Linked DNA regions of Homo sapiens. The protein of the gene in region 5 purifies or fractionates together with the protein of the main gene of each other region. This does not show direct contact. Each region holds a gene or a part of one and is shown on either strand. Other genes may lie near its edges. The genes, in order: ADD3, UACA, FHOD1, TRIOBP, CCDC61 and NHSL3.

Region 1 (3,041 bases), on a different chromosome or scaffold from region 5:
AGTTTTGGGATCATTTGGCAATCAATACTGAAAAAGATTTCATGCTGCTGATTGGGAGATGTTTAATTCCACAAATTCTTTTTTTTTTTTTTTTTTTTTTGAGGCGGAGTCTCACTCTGTCGCCCAGGCCGGAGTGCAGTGGCAGTCTTGGCTCACTGCCAGCTCCACCTCCCGTGTTCATGCCATTCTCCTGCCTCAGCCTCCCGAGTAGCTGGGACTACAGGCGCCCGCCACCACACCCAGCTAATTTTTTGTATTTTTAGTAGAGACAGGGTTTCACCGTGTTAGCCAGGATGGTCTTGATCTCCTGACCTCGTGATCCACCTGCCTCAGCCTCCCAAAGTGCTGGGATTACAGGTGTGAGCCACCGCGCCCAGCCAATTCCACAAATTCTTAAGAACTGCGGGTTGCCAAAATTCAGATTAAGGTAAATCAATATAAATGCTGAACAAAAGTAGCGCCCCATTTTTAATGATATAAAATATGTAATTATTGGGAGATATAAGTAAAATATGGAAAACTTACTGTGATGAGGTATTCAACTTCCTCACGTGAAAACAAAACACAGAGGGACAGACTCAAGACTAACTCAGTGAATGCTATGTGGGAAATTACATTGAGTACCTTCTAATTTTTCAGGGACATTTTGCGGTGACTGAGTTTGAGACTGAATTTGTGAAACAGATGAAGCGTCATCTGAGAGTAATTCCTGCTCAGCATCTGTTGGATAAGAGTTTAGTTAAAAGCCATGCAAAACAAAACAAAGCAGCATATGATTTTAGGGAGGTTAGTGCATACATCAAATGCCTGTATACAAAGAGATGATAAATTCTTCAGCAGTGAGCTGAGCATGCTAACAGTTATCCCATATATCCATAATTATACATTAAGAGGAGGTTAATGTGTTAACATTTCTGGCTGCTAATGGTTATTTTACGTACAGGTTACAAAAGATGCACAGCTGCTGGCAGCCCAGGCAAATGATATGTTGCATGTAGCTCTTGCTAGCATTAGAAAACCAAAACATACTGCGCAGACAGATGAAAAAAATTATAAAGCCTCACCAATGATGCTACATTAATGAGGCAGAATGCTTCACAGAATTTTTGAACAATATTTAATTAGTGATACCTGTCAGAGCAATGTTACTGAGCTAATTCATAAGGTCATAATAAATGTGGAAGAAACTACTATAAAGTTATATAAAAAAGGTGACGGTTCTAGAGTGCAACATTTGTTACCTGGCATCTTTAGGCTTTCAAAAAACAAGAGATTAAAGAGGGATATTTTACAAAATATGAAAAACAGAGAAAGCTCCCAACTTTATGTTAGAATAAACAAATTCAATAACACCATTTAGAAAATTTAGTATAATTACATTAATGAATCAGGACAACTCCCTTTTGTGACAAAGGCACAAAAAACTGTTCCTTGGATGATCAAGATGTCATTAGTTCTTCCTAAATGATATCTAACATGGACAAAAATTCATTAACTATTGGCTTATTTTGCTTTGCATGAAAATTTCAACTGTATGTTGTGGATGCTCTAAAGCAGAGGCTCCTTACCCTCTTTTTGGGTGACAGGCTTGTTCCTGACCCTGAACCCTTCCCTCCCTAAATGTGTACCTTAAACAATAAAGCATGTATTTTTCAGGTGGCTCATGGACTGCCTGAAGCTTATCCAAAGACTCAAGATAGAGAACTCCTGCTAGGAAGAATCTCTTATTCCAGAGAAAAAGGGAGCTAGTAGTCAATTGTTTAAGATGTTTTCATTAACAAGTCTTAAATATAATCCTAACAATCTACTTACTAAGGGTTCCAAAGCCAGAAAACTCAACCTACTAGAGTGTCCGTGTGCTTAAGGAAAGTCACATCAAAATTTTAGCAGTTAGTTTTAAATTTTGAAGTGACAATGTTGGCACCTTGAGATAACCAGAAATAGAGATTTTACAAAGCATCAAAACTACATACTTATGAATCTGTAATTATTTAAAATTAAGAGAGTTAAAAAGCCACATAATTATGAAATGTTTAAATCCATTAATTTATCTACATCTACTTTGGCTAGTAATTCTTTACTCATCTGGGAATCTCACTTTCTAGAAGATTTTACTATAAAATAGTAGCATTCAGATTGTTTTTTTTCTTTTTCTGTTTTTTTTTTTTTGAGACGGAGTCTCTCTCTGTCGCCCAGGCTGCAGTGCAGTGGTGCGATCTCAGCTCACTGCAACCTCTGCCTCCCAGGTTCAAGCGATTCTCCTGCCTCAGCCACCAGAGTAGCTAGGACTACAGGCGTGTACCACCATGCCCGGCTAATTTTTTAATTTTTAATAGAGACGGGGTTTCACCATGTTGGCCAGGCTGGTCTCAAACTCCTGACCTCAAGCAATCCACCTGCCTTGGTCTCCCAAAGTGCTGGGATTACAGGTGTGAGCCATTGTGCCCGGCCACACTGACTGCTTTCTATCATCCAACGTGAGGTACTTTATTGTTATCAGTGTGGCTTACCCTAGGTTGAATGTAAAGATTAACTAACCTTCTAGGCCTTGTTGTTTACGTTCGATTGTCCTCTTATACTCTTCAAGTTCTCCTTCTGTGAGATGACTAAATGGGTTAGGAGGAGCTGGTGGGCCATGATCATCATCTTCAAATTGCATAGTCTTACAAAGAAAAAATAAAAATCGATTCATTACCAAGAGTTTTACTTATATATCTATCCATCCATCCATCTATATACACATAAATGCAAATATGATGTTTGTGAAGCCTTATTTCACAACAATCCTAAGAAATGCAAGGTAACATGCTTTGTTTAAAATGCTCTTGTAAGATTGATGCCCTTAAACTACTAATCCAATGGACTAAAATTGCCAGTGATATTTCCTCAATAAGCCTGTATAAGTAAATCTTAATAATTTTTAAAAACCATTATGCCAAGTTCTAATAAGTTTCACATAAAAAAAACTTGAAAAAAACAAGAATTGCTCCATTTTAAAGACCACTGTAAAAAAGGCTTACAGAAATGAAACTGTACCAAAA
Region 2 (3,500 bases), on a different chromosome or scaffold from region 5:
TTATAAATAGCTTAAACACTACATGTAGAAAACTGCTTTATTAAATGAAACTTAAATAAATGGAATCTCATACACCAACAAAAATCATACTATAGAAAAACTATTTTTGAGGGAAAGGCCTTCAAAATAGGTTACATAAAAAAGTAAGCTACAATTCAGATTTACAGTGAATTCAATTTAATGGGAAAAGACTAGAAGGATATTTCTCAAAATGTTAACAGAGGCTTCTCAGTGGTAATGAGTGACTATTCATTGTGCTTTTCTGTATGTTCCTGTTTTTTTTAAAAAAAACATAAAAAATCATGGCATAGGCATTTGGTAAATATCAGCTGACTATTTTACATACATGTTTAAACAATGATTCTTTAAAACTTCGTAAGTATAAAAAGTTGGGAGGTTCACCCCTCTTCATCAAAAAAAAAAAAAAACTTAGTAAAACACTTGACTCTTCCTTCTCAGTTCTGAAGTTATTCCAGTGTCTTAGTGTTCACTGGATAAACTAGATTATATATGCAACACACACTGCCTCAAAGCAAGTGACCATAATGTAAGTAAGCAAATCCATGTTGTAGAGGGAGATGAACCAATACTGTTTATCAGTAAGGAATGTTTTGCTTCTTATAAACTGTAGTTCTACTACCTAAGTCTTTTAAAAAGTGGCTCTTTGTTAATGTGGACTTTTCTAGTTACAGAAAACTGCTGATACCTTTGTTGGTATTTTCCGATGCAGTCTTCAACAAGGTTAGAATGTCCAGATTGTCACCAATTCTTGCATAGTAAGAACTATCATGGCCAAGCGCATCCAGCAAGCTTATATCAGCACCATTTTTAATTAAGACTTCTACTGCATCTCTGCAACCATATTCGCAACCTAGCATGAGGGCAGTTCTAAATGGAAAAATGGAAGAGCAAAAGACTGAGAAAACTCCAAGGAAATATTGCAGAAATATTCTGCCCTATTGTTGAACACTGTCTTAGTGTTCACTGGATAAACTAGATTATATATGCAACACACACTGCCTCAAAGCAAGTGACTATAATGTAAGTAAGCAAATCCATGTTGTAGAGGGAGATGAACCAATACTGTTTATCAGTAAGGAATGTTTTGCTTCTTATAAACTGTAGTTCTACTTGAACACTAAGTTCAAGTAAGTGTTCAACACTACTTGAACACTTACTTGAACACTAAGACATGCTCCCTTCTTGAAGAATAGACACTACTTTAAGAAGTCATGCCTGTTACAGATATAGATTTTACTTTATATTCATTGCATTTATAAAAACATTTGCTTTGTCTTCTATATCCTTATATCCTTTAATTACTTCTACTACCAAACCAACCTCATTTATTCCACTTCTTCAATGTCCTACACGTAAATAATCACCACAAAAATTTTCCACAACTGATACTGTCACCCCATGTGATCAAAACCCAACTTTTTCAGTCCCTTCATGAACTGAACCACATCATGCAAACCTCCCCTAAGAATCCCTTCTCCTCCAAGAGAAGTATCAGATTCCATTCCTGATGTTCCTGCTTAGAAGAACCTTGATTCTTCTACCTGAAGACCTTCACATCTTCAGACTACAACTAACGCCATGCAACATGGATCATTGCTTTATTCTATTGCAATAGAACCACTGGCACTCAAACATCTCACAGTACATCAGCAAATACTAATCATGCAACAAAATAATTGTCATGAAAATCTAGAAGGACCCTAGAAATTATTTTGTCTAATCCTCTATTTTTTAGGATGGGGCTAACCAACACGTAATGAAATGAAATGACATATCCTATATCTAACTCTGTCTTCAATTGTGAATATTGGATCTCTTAAGGAAACTGACTCTTGCCTTTTCTCTGCTATGTATGCTGTGTTTCTCATATTCAAGCCTTGTCCCCCAACTCCCCTGTAGTTGCTGATAAGAAATTCTGTACAAAACAGGCATTAACAAAGTTTTTGTTATTTAAAAAATGCTACATATAAAACAGGAAAAAAAGAAATGAATATAGAGTATTAGAAACTAAGGTTATAAATTATGTTGAAAACCATATGCTATTTAGTCTATACAATATACACTGCCCTGCTTCATTGGCTTTTTGTGAATGCCCAATGAAAAAACATAGATAAAGTGCTTTGAAAAATGTGAGAGCTATAAAAAATATAAAGCACTGTATGTAGATCAACCAGATTATCCCTCTGTGATCCTAAAATTAAATTTAACTTTTTTTTTTTTGAGACAAGAGTCTCGCTCTGTTGCCAGCGCAGTGGCATGATCTCAGCTCACTGCAACCTCCGCCTCCTGGGTTCAAGGAATTCTCCTGCCTCAGCCTCCTGAGTAGCTGGGATTACAGGCACGCACCACCACACCTAGCTAATTTTTGTATTTTTGGTAGAGATGTGGTTTCGCCATGTTGGCCAGGCTGGTCTTGAACTCCTGACCTCAAGTGATCCGCGCCCAGCCGTAAAATTTAATTTTAAAATCCAATTTTCTTCATCATGCTTGGAATCAGATGATAGTATCCACAAAAACAAAGTAATATTAAAAAGCCACTTCTTAATCACATCTTTTTTTTTTTTTTTTAATATTTAAAGAGGTTTATTCTGAGCCAAATGTTAGCAACCATGGCCCATGACACAGCCTCAGGAGGTCCTGAGAATGGGTGCCGGAGGTGGTTGAGTTACAACTTGGTTTTATACATTTTAGGGAGACAAAAGTTACAGGCAAAGGTATAAATCAATACATATAAGGTATACATTGGTTTAGCTCAGAATGTCAGGACATTTCAAAGTAGGGGCTTCCAAGTCAAAGATTTCCTGATTGGGAATTGATTGAAAGCATTAAGCTTTGTCTGGAGAATTGAAGTCAATATAAAGAAATGCTTGAGTTAAGATAAGGGGAGTTGTAGAAGCCAGGGTTCTTTTTTTTTTTTTTTTTTTTTTTATACTTTAAGTTTTAGGGTACATGTGCACAATGTGCAGGTTAGTTACATATGTATACATGCATCATGCTGGTGTGCTGCACCCATTAACTCGTCATTTAGCATTAGGTACAGAATTTCCTCCTTTGAGATGCATAAAGAAAACAATTACAGCTATAAAATCTGACAACTAAAGACTATTTTTTATACTTTTATACTTCTAATAAACTACAAACAATAGAATACATGTTTGGAAGAATAAAATTAAGTCAAAAGAAACCAAAATTTTTACTAGTAACTACAAAAATCCCAGAAATTTTAGTTTAATTTATTGTAATACTTGAATTAAATGGAAGGGGTGTGTTTCAGATACTTTGTGACCATAAACTTCAGAATTGTAATACAACAAGCACCATGATACATTAGACCTACAGACAGAGATAGGGAGAATTCTGGATAGAAATTATTAGAGCACACCAACTAAAATAGTATCAAATACAGAAGCAAAAATAAAGCAAGGGACCTCTGCAGTACAGAAATGGACAGGTTCAGAGTAGGAGATGGCACTGTACCC
Region 3 (3,500 bases), on a different chromosome or scaffold from region 5:
GCCTTGGTCCCCTGGAGAAAAAGGGAGTCCAGCTCCTGCCTCAACCCCTACCTCTGTTTAGCAACCCTTGCGCCTGCCTCAGAGCCTGACCTGGCTCCTTCCCCACAGTTTAGCCTGTGGGGCCCTTGGATGACCCCCCCCCCCGCCCACCCCCGCCTGGGACCTGGGACATAGGACAAACACTCCAGCCTGTTCTCTGTCCCACTTCCTGCCTGGCTGCCTGCCCTCCCCAGGGTGCCTTGGGCAGGCCTGGCCACTTTCCCCTCCCTGGGAGCAGAGTCATCTTCTCCAGGGCCTACTGGGAACAGGCCTGAGAAGGGGCAGCAAGGCCTGAGGGCTGGGGTATCTTGTCCAGGGCCAGCTCAGCTGAGGGCAACCCACATTCCTCCTGATCTCTTCCCACACAGTGACTCAGCAGCCTACCACCCCACCCCCATTCAGGCACAGCCGCATCTCCCTCCCTTGGCCTGGAAGATTCTGGGACCCTAGAAGAACACACCTACCCCAGAGCCACCCCCGTCAGGGATCCCCTCGAATCACACACATATAGAACAGCTCATTCTTTGAACATTCATGACCAGGCTGGTTTCAGATGCAGAGGACCTAGGAGGAATTAGACACTGCCTCTGCCTTCCCTTCCTTCCAGCCCAGTGGGGCAGACGGGAAGACAGACAGACGAGTCAGAAAAAGCTCACAAATGAATGTGGAATCACAACTTTCACAGTGCTAAGAAAGGGGAGGGGCAGAGTGCTATAAAGATAAACGGGAAGGGAAAACATGTTACACCTGGTAACTGCTTACACACCCAGGTATAAGGTTGGGTATGCACTGGCCAACACAGGCTGAAGCAGCACAGACCCAGAAAGGTCAGGCCCACCACGCTGTCCTGCCTCCTTGCATGCTGTAATCCCAAGAGAGCAGAGAATGTCCCTCTCCTTCCAGGACACCTGCATCCATTTGGGGAAGGGTCCTGAAGGTTAAATAGTCCACCTTCTTTTTTTTTTTGATATGGAGTCTTGCTCTGTCTCCCAAGTTGGAGTGTAGTGGCACAGTCTTGGCTCACTGCAACCTCTGCCTCCTGGGTTCAAGCAATTCTCCTACCTCAGCCTCCTGAGTAGCTAAGGTTACAGGCGTGCATCACCATGCCTGGCTAATTTTTGTATTTTTAGTAGAGACAGGGTTTCAGCATGTCATCCAGGCTGGTCTTGAACTCCTGACCTCAAGTGATCCACTTGCCTCTGCCTCTCAAAGTGCTGGGATTGTAGGTGTGAGCCACTGTGCCCGGCCAATGGTCCACATTCTCTAGCCTCCTCAGCCACTTCACCTGTCCAATCCTGCCAGGGCCCCATTTCTGGGGAGGAGGTCCAGGGAAACAGGTAGTCCAGTGCCTTCCAGGACAGTGTCTCCCCACCCCCAGCTGTCTGTCCTGGGTGGAAGTGTGGGGTGGTAGGCTAGAGTCAGGCAAGCAGCAAAGAGCAGGAGACTTCCTGCTAGCAGGATGGCACATGTCCCTCACACCCCGGCCCCTTCCTGGGGTCACCCTTCTGAGAGCCAAACCTCTGGGCCTTGTTTCTCACACCCTGGGGCTGGGCCAGGCCTGAATAAGCCCAAACCCTGGTCCTTGCTGACGGGGCTTAAGCTCAGCACGTAGTATGGGCCCACTTCCCTGACACCTTCTTGGCTCTTGTCTTCCTCACTTCTCTGGTCTCTGTCTTGGGGTGGAGTCTTTCCCCCATTCTTCCCAGGCTCAGCTTCTCACATTGGCCTCCAGCCCACTATACTCTTGACTTTCCAGGCTCAGGCTTTTCTGGCAGCCCAAAACCAACTGGTTATGTATGGTTTTATATGCAGGGTCAAGCCCAGGGGACCATGGCATCTACTTCTCTCTCTCTTTCTAGCTATCTATCTACCTATGTATAATATATAGATATAGATCTATAATATATAGATGTCTATAGATATTGATAATTTATATATATAGCTATGTATCTATTATATATATCTAGACATCTATTACATATATCTATTATATATTTTATAAATATACATTTTTCCCGCTTGTTTCTTTAGACTGTCTTACCCAATATTTTTAATAACAGTGTAATCAGGTAAGACTGAACATACCAGAGCAGGGTACAGGGAAGATGGAAAAGAGGCAGGATTATAGGCTGAAGGGCTTTCATTTTAGAAAATAATTGGTTAACTGCCTCTTTTGTCTCCTTTCCTATAAACACAGGACCCTGTGTTCTGAAGACCCTCCTTTCCTGTTATCGCAGGTCTCCAACTAGAGTGTGACTTCCTGAATGAGATGACAAGGATGGGCCTTGGGGAGGGAAATCCACTTTTGTTATCTTATGCTTCCTCTGTGCCAGGCACCGGACTGCCTCTTTTTTTTCTTTTCTTTTTTTTTTTAATAGAAATAGGGTCTCGCTATATCACCCACACTGTTCTTGAACTCCTGGCCTCAAGCAATCCTCTGGCCTTGGCTTCCCAAAGTGCTGAGATTACAGGCATGAGCCACCATGCCCAGCCTGAGCCGCCTATTTAATTTGATTCTACCAATAATCCTTTTACAGATAGGGAAACCAAGAATCAGAAAATCAGCGCATTGCCCCAGGGTGCACAGCCAGGAGCCAGGGCTAATTGACCAAATCTTGGGCGGATGGGCCCTGGAAATGCTCCAAGGAACCCTAGAGGGGAAGTGGAGTGAGGGCTGGGGCCAGAAGGATTGCCAAGAGCTGAAGACATCCTCTTAGTTTTCTGGACTCTGCAAATACCCCATACTGGTCCTCCCAGTTCCAGTAAGGGAACACCAATAGACACACGCACCCCATGCAAGTTAGGATAATAGTATCTACCTCTGCCAGGACCTAGGTGTCAGGGTCCCTCACCAGTCTGCAGCTCAGCCACTCTGTTCCAGAATGACCAGCAGATTGGATAGTCCAGCCCCAGGGGAGGCTAGGAGGAGACCAGGACTCATGCCCACACCTCAGTTTTCTACAGTCTCCCAAAGGCTCCTGAGATGTAAAAAGGCTAGAGTGGGTTGGGGTAGGGTCAGGAAACATTCCAGGACAGTGCCACCCCTGTCCTACTCTGATTTTTAGCCACAGCTAGGGAAACAAAGTTGCTAGTAATGACCAGATTTCTAGGGCTATCCCCACTGTCAGGAGGAGAGGGCTTTCCTGGCCTTTGCAGCAGGGTCAGAGAAGCACCCCAGATCCCCCTACCCGGAGCTCAGGGAGAAGTCAGTGCTATACCAGGTGTGGTAGGGCCTTGGGTATCGGAGAGGCTCCTGAGACACTTCCCAGAAGGGAGGGTAGAACTGGGAGGCTCTAGATTAGGAGATGAGATGCAAGGCCAGAGGGACACATTCTCCCCTCTGGCAAAGGCAGGTCTGGGCTGGGGGAATATTTTGGAGGGGAGGAAGGCACTCCTGAGTTCCCCCAGGGACACTAGGCCCGGCCCAAGACACTGTCAAGCTCCCTTCCACCAACCAGGGC
Region 4 (3,500 bases), on a different chromosome or scaffold from region 5:
GCCACATCTACCTGGAGCATCCTCTTTCTGATAAGTCCTCATGGACTTCCTATGGCATGCAGGAGAGGCCACCCTATGGCTGAGCTGCTTGGGAAGGAGCCAGGAAGAGCGGATCTGGCTGTACCTTAGGGGCTGAGAGGTGGTGGAAGGACCCACTCAGCACCCTTGCTTGGCCTTGGGGTGGCCTCGCAGCCCCTCAGCCCAGGCCTCAGCCCTGCCGCACCTTGTCTTTCAGGTCCCGCCCAGCTGCAGACCCTCCAGGCTGGAGGACCAGCCGCCCTCCTTCCCTCCTGGATGGAAGTAAAAAGCCAAGCTTTCTCCCCACCCTCTGTGGGCCACACGTGCACTTGCACCCACCACACACACACACACACACACACACACACACACAGACACACAGACACATACGCACACACGTGCACACATGTACACACGGATACACACACACACACACACACTGCATATCTGAGCGCGCCCCTCGCACTGGGTCTCACCTTGCACCTTCTTCAGGATTTTATATGTGAAGAGATTTTTATATAGATTTTTTTCCTTTTTTTCCAAAACACTTTATACTTTAAAAAAAAAAAAAAAAAGCAATTCCTGGTGGCTGTGTGCCTCCAACCCTGGTCCCCCTCTGTCTCCAGCCACCCTCTGCTTGGGCTTCTGAGCTGGTGGCCCTGGCCCAGAGGTCTGGCGGAGGCCCAGGCAGCAGCCATGGCGGGGTGTCTCTACAGGGGAGAGGCGGGAGCCTGCCACCCTCTTCCTGCCCTACCTCCTACTAACACTTCCTGCCCCATTTGGACCCGTACCATGGGGCTCAGGACAGAGGGAGCTAGCAGCTGGCCTCCATGGCCCCACAGCCTCCTTCGAGGCTGTGCTGGGTGCAGAACCGCCAGAGCCACCCAAAAGGTGTTTCTCTTCTGCTCCCTGAACCTCTTAACTTAATAAAACGTTCCAGCAGCTCTGGTGTCCTAGATGGCTGGCAGAACAGGAATGGAGATTGGGGTTTCTTGAAGTGGCTTCCCCACTCACACCCTACCCACACCCCACCCTTCCTAAAGCAGCGGCCTCTAGGCTTCTGAGGGTGGGGCTGAAAATCCAAGGTCTCCCTTAGTACAGACTGTGACGCCCCCAGTGTGGCTTGCAGGCTAGTGGCAGCGGAAGCATGTGGGAAATAGCAAGTCCAGTCCCACCCCAACCTACTGAACCAGCGTCTGCATTTTAACAGGGTGCCCCAGTGATTCACGTGACCTTCAAAGTCTGAGGAGCCCTGGAGTAGGGCCCAGGGCCCAGGCCTGAGAGAGAGGCCTGGGGCTAAGACTAGCCCTGACCATGACCTTGGGCAAGTCACACCCCTCACTGAGCCTCAGTTTGCTTCTCCATCAAATGGGTGTTTTTCTTTCAGTCCCAGTCCTCTCCTGAGGCTTTTCCCAGAGGTCATGCCCAGCCCTGGGCAGGGGTGAGGGCAGGGTTGTGGCTGCCAGGCACAGGTCCAGCGGGCTGGGAGTCCTCACCATGGCTGGCTGTGCTGATTATGGTTGCATGGGGCTGGGAAGAGGTCCCATTTCTGAGCCACAGAAACAGGCCACATCCAGTAGGGGTCCTGGAAGGCTGTGAGAACCCAGAGGAGACCCTGACCCAGCCTGCAGGTAGAAGACTGCCTTTGGAGGCAGCTTTGAAAGATGACTCTTCCAGATGGAAGAATCAGGAAGGGCCTTCCCACGTGGAGGCACCAGCAGGAGCAAACGTCCCTGGTGTGTTCAGGCAAAGAGCCACAGGAGAGTGACCTCGTGGAGTGGGAAGAGATTGTTTCCCATTCCCTTGCCAGGGATTGGTTGAGGAATGGACAAGGCTTGCAGTTCACGCAAGCCAGTGAAATGCGAGGGGAAGTCTTGGGAGTGGGGTGGAGGAGGTCATCTGGGAAGGGTGTCCTTGGTCTTAAAAAGAGGCACAAGAGGCCGGGCGCGGTGGCTCTTGCCTATTATCCTAGCACTTTGGGAGGCCAAGGCAGGGGGATCACTTGAGGTCAGGAGTTCGAGACCAGCCTGGCCAACATGGTGAAACCCCGTCTCTACTAAAAATACAAAAAATTAGCCAGACGTGGTGCCAAGCACCTGTAATCCCAGCTACTCAGGAGGCTGAGGCAGGAGAATCACTTGAACCCAGGAGGCAGAAGTTGCAGTGAGCCAAGATCGCGCCACTGCACTCCAGCCTGTGTGACAAGGGCGAAACTCCATCTCAAAAAAAAAGGGGGAGGGTGGCGCAAGGAGAGGACACCTCTCTCCTGGCCCTGTCGCCATCTTCCCTCATCAATAGCTAAAAATGGCAAAGAAGAAAGAGCCAGGACCCCGTGCCATCAAATCCTCCGGCCTTGTGCTGCCCTGTCTCGGCACTGCTTGCCTTAGGAGATCAGGAGTGTTCCTAGCCACTGGGAGATGGGATGCCTGCCACTGGCAGCTCTGCCGTCCATCCTCACCATCCCACCGTCCCCCCAAGACAGCTCTCCATCCCATCCTCTGCCTCCCTTCTAGCCTCAACCTAACTCAGGGCTCCCCCGTCTCACACCTGGGTTGCAGGAACATCCTCTTCACCAACCCCCCTCCCATCCCTCCTCAGGGCTGCCTAGGGCAGCTACAAAAACCAGGCCAGCCTCTGAAAGGTGCTCCACATCTCATTAAAAACCGTGAAATCGCACTGCCCCACTATCAGAATAGCTCAGAGGAGAAGGTCTGCCAGTACCAAGTGCTGGTGGGGATACGGAGAAGAGCAGCTCCCAGGCGCTGCTGGTGCAAATGTGCTTTGTTGCACCCACGGCAGGAAACTGACCAGCTTCTCATCAAGTTAAATACGCATCTACCCTATGGCCTAGCATTTCCACTCTTGCTTACACATCCAGGAGAAATGAGTCCTTACATGCACAAAAGGATGAGTACCGTAATACTCACATCAGCAAATAAACAATACAGCTGTGTGTCAGTAGTAGAATGAATAAATTGTGGTCGATTCATACGTTAGAATACAGCAATTTAAAAACAACTGCTACACACAAAAATGTTGGTGAATCTTTCAGACACAATGTTGAGCAAAAATAGCCACAGAAGAGTGTAAGGCTGTACGATTTTATTTAGGTGAGGTTCAAGAACAGACAAAACACGGTGATAGTGGTCAGAAGAGCGGGTACCTCTGAGCTGAGGGCATTGACCAGCAGTGGGCAAAAGGGAACATTCTGATCCCAGAAATGTTCTATATCATGGTCTGGGTTGTGGTCACGTGGGTACATACAGATGTAAAAATTCACCATGCCGGCCAGGCATAATCCCAGCACTTTGGGAGGCCAAGGTAGGTGGATGACCTGAACTCAGGAGTTCCGAGACCAGCCTGGCCAACATGGCGAAACCCCGTCTCTACTAAAAATACAAATAATTAGCCGGGCTTGCTGGCGCATGCCTGTAATCCCAGCTACTCGGGAGGCTGAGGCAGGAAAATTGCTTGAACCCGGG
Region 5 (3,500 bases):
CCAATGCATGATGTTACAAGATCATCCACAGGTAAAAAAATATCCATACAAAATGCAAGATAAGTCAGTGGAATTTAATGTAACAATACAAAAAGTTCACTGATGAGGATGCAGATTCCACATTGCAACTAACCTTTAAGAAACTATCGCTTGTCCAGGCCAGGCGCGGTGGCTCACACCTGTAATCCCAGCACTTTGGGAGGCCGAGGCAGGTGGATCACTTGAGGCCAGGAATTCAAGACCAGCCTGGCCAAGATGGCAAAACCCCGTCTCTACTAAAAATACAAAATTAGCCGGGCATGATGGCGCATGCCTGTAATTCCAGCTACTCGGGAGGCTGAAATAGGAGAATTGCTTGAAATCGGGAGGCGGAGGTTGCAGTGAGCCAATATCATGCCACTGCACTCCAGCCTGGGCTACACAGATAGTATCTCAAAAAAAATAAATAAATAAATACAAAAATTAGCTGGGCATGGTGGGCAGGCCTGTAGTCCCAGCTACTTGGGAGGCTGAGGCATGAGAATCACTTGAACCCGAGACGCGGAGGTTGCAGTGAGCTGAGACTGTGCCACTAAGCCTGGGCAACCGAGCAAAACTCTTGTCTCAAAAAAAAAAAAAAAAAAAAAAAAAAGATATCTAAATACCACCCATCCCTGTCACTCTAAGTTCTAACCTGCTTCTTCCCCCTGATTATTACTTTTAGGCTGGGCACGGTGGCTCACGCTTGTAATTGCAACACTTTGGGAAGCCAAGGCAGGAGGATTACTTGAGATCAGGTATTCAAGACCAGCCTGGCCAATACAGTGAAACCCCATCTCTACTAAAAATACAAAAATTAGCCGGGTGTGGCGGCACACGCCTGTAGTCCCAGCTACTCGGGAGGCTGAGGCAGGAGAATTGCTTGAACCCAGGAGGCAGAGATTGCAGTGAGTTGAGATCACGCCACTGCACTCCAGCCTGGGAGACAGAGTGAGATTCCATCTCAAACAAACAAACAAAAACTTTTAAATACCTGACATTATGTATTTTTTCATTTGTCTGTCTCTCCAAAATGTCAGCCTCATGAGGACAGGGGTTTTGTCTGTTGTTCACTGCTGTATCGCCAGTGTCCCCCACAATGACTGACACACTGTCAATGCTCAGCAAATGAAATGAATGAATGGCTATATTCACTGATGTGACTACATTTTTATGAGATATTGCTGAATCCTTTAAAAGCAAGTTGCAGGCTGGGCGCAGTGGTTCACGTCTGTAATCCCAGCACTCTGGGAGGCAGAGGCGGGTGGATCACCTGATGTCCGGAGCTCCACACCAGCCTAGTCAACATGATGAAACCCCGTCTCTACTAAAAATACAAAAAATTAGCCGGGCATGGTGGCGTGCGCCTGTAATCCCAGCTACTCAGGAGGCTGAGGCAGGAGAATCGCTTGAACCTGGGAGGCGGAGGTTGCAGTGAGCTGAGATGGTGCCACTGCACTCCAGCCTGGGCGACAGAGCGAGACTCCATCTCAAAAAAAAAATAAACAAACAAACCAAAAAAAGCAGGTTGCAGAATACCTTGGAAATTATATAAACTATATATAATTACAGATCTGCAAATGCATACACACACACACACACACACACACACACACACACACACACACGTATTTGGAAACAAACAGAGACATGGAGAAAGGACTGGAGTGATTTTCACCAAAATATTAACAGAAGCGAGTATTAGGGCTGGAGTGATTTTTACTTTCTTCTTTATATTTCTCTGTGACCTAAATTTTCTACATGAGAATAACTATCATTAAGTTCAAAATGAAGCATTTACACTTGGCAAAAGAAGAAAATGATCGCCCTCTTCCCACAATGAAAGAGAAGGTAGAGGGTCTTACATACATCAGATGGGCATCAACCCCCCTGGAACCTGGAAGACAGAACCCCCCTCCCACCCCAACCCGCCAACCCGGGCCCTACCTGAGTGAGGGCTGACTCCAGCATATGACAGAAGATGTTGAACTGTTTGAAGTTCCCTGTCTTGTGAGTCAAATCTTCAATGACTGGGTGGGGAGAAAAGTCTCTCCTGAGGTCTGACCGCTTGCCCAGCCCCAGGGCAATGCACCTAAGCTCTGCAATTCTACCCGACTCCAGTGTCTCTGGCTTGAGCAACAAGACCTACACCCCTCCCCACACTGGAGAGTTTCTGGTGACAAAGAAGAGGCAGGTGGGCAGGATTCAGGGTGGCCTGATATTCTGGGAGAAGCTGATCCCAGGAGAGGAAAGGTGAGCCCACCCCAGGCAGGCACACTCACAGCCAGCATCGAACTCGCCCCGCCACTGGTCAGCCGTCATCCGGTCCTCCACCTCCAGCTCCAGCACCTGCCCAGAAACCATCACCCGCACGGCATGCTCCACACCCCGGAAGACGTAGTCCACCTGCAGGCCAGCCGGCTGGTCCATGGCCAAGGTTGCTGGAGAAGGAGATGAGAGAGAAACCTAGAGGAGCTCAGAGCCCAGGCTCATGAGTTGGAAGGCCAGGCCTCATATCCTGGCTCCATCATTTACCAGCTGTGGCATCCTGGGAAAGCGAATTCACCTCTCTGTGCCTTAGTTTCCTCATCTGGAAAATGGGTATAATAATGGCACCAACCTCGTGGACTTGTTGTGAGGATTACATTGGGCAATATGTATAAAAGTACTTGGTACTGTGACCTGGAGGCTGTGTCCAATATGTGCTGGATACTAGAAATTCATGATTGCCAAGCCGGGCGCGGTGGCTGACAACTGTTATCCCAGCACTTTGGGAGGCTGAGGCAGGAGGATCACTTGAGCTCAAGAGTTCAAGACCAGCCTGGGCAATGTGGTGAAACCCCACCTCTACTAAAAATACAAAAAAATTGCCAGGTGTGGTGGTGCATGCCTGTGGTCCCAGCTACTCGGGAGGCTGGAGGCAGAGCTTGCAGTGAGCTGTGATCTTGCCACTGCACTCCAGTCTGGGTGACAGAGTGAGACCCTGACTCAGTTAAAAAAAAAAAAGAAAGAAAAGAAATACATGATGGCCAAAAAAAGAATCATGATTAATATTAGTATTAATTTATTAAGTCTTATACTCATTATATATTTATTATTATTCATTCATTCATTCAGCAAACATTTGTGGAGAAAAGTCAAGCTGGAAAGAGGGACGGGGGTATTGGAGTAGGATGAGCCAAGCTTTTAAAAGGGGGTCAGAGCAGGCCAGGTGCGGTGGCTCATGCCTGTAATCCCAGCACTTTGGGAGGCGAGGCAGGTGGATCATGAGGTCAGGAGTTCCAGACCAGCCTGGCCAACAATGGTGAAACCCCATCTCTACTAAAAATACAAAAAAATTAGCCAGGTGTGGTGCCCCGTGCCTGTAATCCCAGCTACTCCGGAGGCTGAGGCAGGAGAATCGCTTGAAGCCAGGAGGCAGAGGTTGCAGTGAGCTGAGATGGTGCCACTGCACTCCAGCCTGGCGACAGGGGGAGACTCCA
Region 6 (3,500 bases), on a different chromosome or scaffold from region 5:
CCTCCTGGCTTGGTTCTGGCACTAGGAGCCCAACAAAGCATACCCTCACCCAACCTTCTTACCGCTTTGATTTACTGACAGTGCCCGCAGCACTGGGCTGGACACCCTACACATGTTCAGACACTATAATGTAGGTGTCACTGCCCCACACTTTACAATGTAGCTAGGAAGGGTAGGGAAAGAGGCAAAGTTGGAATTCAAACACAGTAGGCCTGACACTCACACACCATTCTCCTCTGGGCCCCAGCAAGGGTGACAGCTTGCCCTTCCCAGGCATTCTCAGACCAGAAAAGTTAAAGATCCAAGAACAAATCCCCCATGGCGGGACTTCAGATTCCTACTTCCCATCATCAGCAATGGGACCTCACCCTAGCACTGCCCACTGTACCTGAGCCCGGGAGGCCCATCTTCTCCTCTGGGCCCACCAGCTGCAGGACACCTCCATTCTCCGCCAGCTCCCTCTTAGTCCTGTCCTGGGTGTGAGGGAGCCCATTGGTGGGAGGAGCAGTAAGGGGCTCAGCTCGAGGGTAACTGGGGGAGGCGGGTGGGGGGACTCCCACAGACGGCTTGCGGGCCACAGGTGGGGGAGCCTTAGGTGACTTCTTTGGGGCCTGGGGTGGCCGCTGCTCTGAGATGCTCCGGAGTTCTGCCACCAGATTCCGCTGGAGGTCAGCCTGGGTCTCAGGGGACACGGGCCGCTCCAGCTGCAGCTTCCTAGAGCCCTTGGAGAAGATGAAACTGGCCGTTGAGGCAGGGGACTGGGGAGGCCGTGGCTCTGCCTCAGGCGGTCCGTTGGGCTGAGCACTTGAGAGGCCTTCACTGGCGGCCAGGCTGCAGGCCTTGAGTCGGACCGCAGCATGGAGCCCTGAGGAGGGGGCAGGCACTGGGCTGGCCCGCCCTGACAGGGCCCTTCGCAGTGGTTTCTGGGGGGCCGATGGCCCCAGTGCTGGGGTGGGAGCCCCTCCTGGAGCACCCACGGAGCGCAGCCGCACCATCTGCAGGAGCGAGGGCGTGACCAGGGGCGCACCTACGTCCTCCCTGGGAGGCCCACCACCCTTGCTACAGCCCACCGGTTCCTTCTGAGGGAGCTTGGCCACATGCCCTGGGGCGGAACTAGCAGGAGCTGGGGCTGGCGGAGCTGGAGGAGGGTCTGGGCTACCCGGGGGCTGAATCTGCAAAGCAGTAGCTGAGGAGGACGAAGCAGCCGGGGAGCTGACAAGCTCTGGGGAGCCTGAAGGGCCTGCAGGCTCAGGGCTGGCCACAGAGAAAAAAGCCTCCTCTGGTGGGGGGAAGTCAGCCATGGACAGGTCCTGCTCCTCAGGGGCAGGGGGTGGGGGAGGGGGCCAGTTGGGATCTTGGAGGGGCTCCTCAGCAGTCTCTGAGGCAGATGGTGCCTCCACAACCACCTCTGGCTTCTTAGTGGGTGGTGGGGGTGGATGATAAGATGGGGGTGGGGAAGGTGGGGGTGACTGGTCTTTGGAGATGACAGGAGACTCCTGCAGTGGAGTCAAGGTTGTCTGGGGAGTGGGAGGGGACTGAGGACTGGCGTCAGTGGTAGAAACAGGCCCAGGAACCACAGCAGGGGCGGCTAGAGCAGGGGCAGCTGGGTTAGGGCTCCTGGGCTTGGAGGGAGGTGGGGAGAAGGGGGCAGGCACCTTGGGGTGAGGAGGTATGACAAACCTGTCACCCAGGGGGGTCAATATCTGTGGCCCAGAGCGGTCTGAGGGGGCTGGGTCAGAGGAGGAGGAACATAAAGACGTGAGGGAAGAGGAGACGGAGGCCCCAGGGGAGCGAAGAGACGTGACACGCTCTGGTTTAGGGGGCTGGGCCTTGCCTGGGGAAGCAGGGGGACCTGCCAGGCCCTTGGGAGGGAGGGTGGGAGTACCACTTTGGCTCGAGTATCCACTGGAGGGCGAAAGTGTCCGTTCTGGGGACCGTGGGGGGCGCCGGGAACCACCCGGAGACAAGCCAGGTACCCAGCTGTTGGCTGGGTTGGGTGGACAGGGTGCTGCCCCCGCCCCTTCTGAGCCACCAGTGGTGGGTGGCCGAGGCAGCTGGGGCTGCTGCTTACGCTCAGGCTTAGGGGGCAACCCTAATGGCCCATCAGGCACTGCTAAGCCCCGCTGATGGAGGGAGTGGGTCCGGCGGGGAGGGGGTGGAGGCCGCTTCAGCTTACGCAGGGACACACTCCGGCCAGACAACTGCCCACTGCTCCGAATGCTGAGTGTGTCTGAGGCCTCAGCAGTGCTGCCCCCACTGGGAGAGCCCCTCCCACTGCCTCCCTGGGGAGGGGGTACCACGCTATTGCTAGCCGTAGAGCTCTCCGGCTGGCCCTCAGAGCCACCCTTAGAGGAGAGGGTGGAACCGTCAGACACAATGGTGTCGGAGGATTGAGAGTGGCTCCAGGTGTCACTGGAGGAGGATGGGTGGCGGCTGCGGGGCTGTGGGCTGGAGACGGAGGAGAAGCGCCCCAGCGAGCGGACTGAGGCTGGGCTGGCCGAGTGCAGGCTGCAGCGGCTTAGTGTGCGCAGGCTGCAGCGGCCTAGGGCCACCACGTCCACTGTAGGCGGCAGCACAGCATGTGGAATCAACTTCGACAGGTAGGTGGCCTGGGGGGAGATGGACATGGCCGGGCTCAGGGGCTCTGCAGGCCCTGCCCCTCCTGTCAATCCAGGCACTGCTAGGGACATGGGCCGGGTCAATGGTGGGGCCCGGGTACCCGTGGACCGGCCAACAAAGGTGTCATCCCGGTAGACACGGTCAATGTGGCGCTGCAGCATGGCCTCTGTCTCAGCGCCAGCCTCCGCCTCCGCCTCCAGCGCCTGCAGGGACACCCGGGCCCCCATCCCTGAGGTGCCTCGGGGGCGGCCGTCCACTGTGGGGATGCGTACGGCATCCCGTGCACCAGGAGCCCGGGGCGTGCCTGGTGCCTCACGCTCATTCCTCAGGCCTGGAAGGGACAGGGAGGAGGTGGGGTCAGCAGAGAGGGGATGACCAAGGCTCCCCACCCACCCCACCACTGCCCTCCTAACCCAGGCCTCACCAAGCTCCTTCTGCACATGCTGCGGGAGTCCCAGCACAGTGCTCCGCCGCTCCCGCCGACGCCGCCCTGACTTTCCAGATTTGGGAAATGAGTCATGGGGTCGGAAGGTGGAGCCTGGGGGCCAGTCGTGGGAGAAAAACTGTTAGAGCAAAGGACTCCAGGCACATTCTGCAGGGCACTACTTTTGTAATAAGAGCTCTGCGAGAAATGGTTTCCACAGTCAAGTAGGTATGGGCAAGGCTAGGTTAAACAAAGCTAGAGGCTTCTTTCTGTAAGACTAAGGCTACTAAGTCAATGATGGTAATTTCCCTTTAGTGATAGCTTACTATTTAGTAAACATATTATTACGTGTTAGTCGTCATTCTAAACATTTGGCATTCATTCCAATAGGGTACTTATCCTCATTTTTATAGAACATCAAACAGAAGTTCAGAGAGGTTAAGGGTTTTCCCAAGGT

The links.
Region 1: the proteins of CCDC61 (region 5) and ADD3 purify together in Homo sapiens (tandem affinity purification; one study listed by IntAct). This does not show direct contact.
Region 2: the proteins of CCDC61 (region 5) and UACA purify together in Homo sapiens (tandem affinity purification; one study listed by IntAct). This does not show direct contact.
Region 3: the proteins of CCDC61 (region 5) and FHOD1 purify together in Homo sapiens (tandem affinity purification; one study listed by IntAct). This does not show direct contact.
Region 4: the proteins of CCDC61 (region 5) and TRIOBP purify together in Homo sapiens (tandem affinity purification; one study listed by IntAct). This does not show direct contact.
Region 6: the proteins of CCDC61 (region 5) and NHSL3 purify together in Homo sapiens (tandem affinity purification; one study listed by IntAct). This does not show direct contact.

The regions. Positions count from the first base shown.
Region 1 is NC_000010.11:110,129,984-110,133,024, reverse strand, and holds part of ADD3 (gamma-adducin), read right to left. Parts: intron 2,663-3,041; coding exon 2,539-2,662; intron 721-2,538; coding exon 625-720; intron 1-624. UniProt on the Homo sapiens protein: Membrane-cytoskeleton-associated protein that promotes the assembly of the spectrin-actin network. Plays a role in actin filament capping. Binds to calmodulin.
Region 2 is NC_000015.10:70,683,559-70,687,058, forward strand, and holds part of UACA (uveal autoantigen with coiled-coil domains and ankyrin repeats), read right to left. Parts: intron 889-3,500; coding exon 707-888; intron 1-706. UniProt on the Homo sapiens protein: Regulates APAF1 expression and plays an important role in the regulation of stress-induced apoptosis. Promotes apoptosis by regulating three pathways, apoptosome up-regulation, LGALS3/galectin-3 down-regulation and NF-kappa-B inactivation.
Region 3 is NC_000016.10:67,240,982-67,244,481, forward strand, and holds part of FHOD1 (FH1/FH2 domain-containing protein 1), read right to left. Parts: intron 1-3,500. UniProt on the Homo sapiens protein: Required for the assembly of F-actin structures, such as stress fibers. Depends on the Rho-ROCK cascade for its activity. Contributes to the coordination of microtubules with actin fibers and plays a role in cell elongation.
Region 4 is NC_000022.11:37,773,548-37,777,047, forward strand, and holds the end of TRIOBP (TRIO and F-actin-binding protein), read left to right. Parts: intron 1-235; 3' UTR 236-3,009; downstream 3,010-3,500.
Region 5 is NC_000019.10:46,001,967-46,005,466, reverse strand, and holds part of CCDC61 (centrosomal protein CCDC61), read right to left. Parts: intron 2,460-3,500; 5' UTR 2,449-2,459; coding exon 2,301-2,448; intron 2,049-2,300; coding exon 1,966-2,048; intron 1-1,965. UniProt on the Homo sapiens protein: Microtubule-binding centrosomal protein required for centriole cohesion, independently of the centrosome-associated protein/CEP250 and rootletin/CROCC linker.
Region 6 is NC_000001.11:32,769,330-32,772,829, reverse strand, and holds part of NHSL3 (NHS-like protein 3), read right to left. Parts: intron 3,158-3,500; coding exon 3,044-3,157; intron 2,951-3,043; coding exon 389-2,950; intron 1-388. UniProt on the Homo sapiens protein: Able to directly activate the TNF-NFkappaB signaling pathway.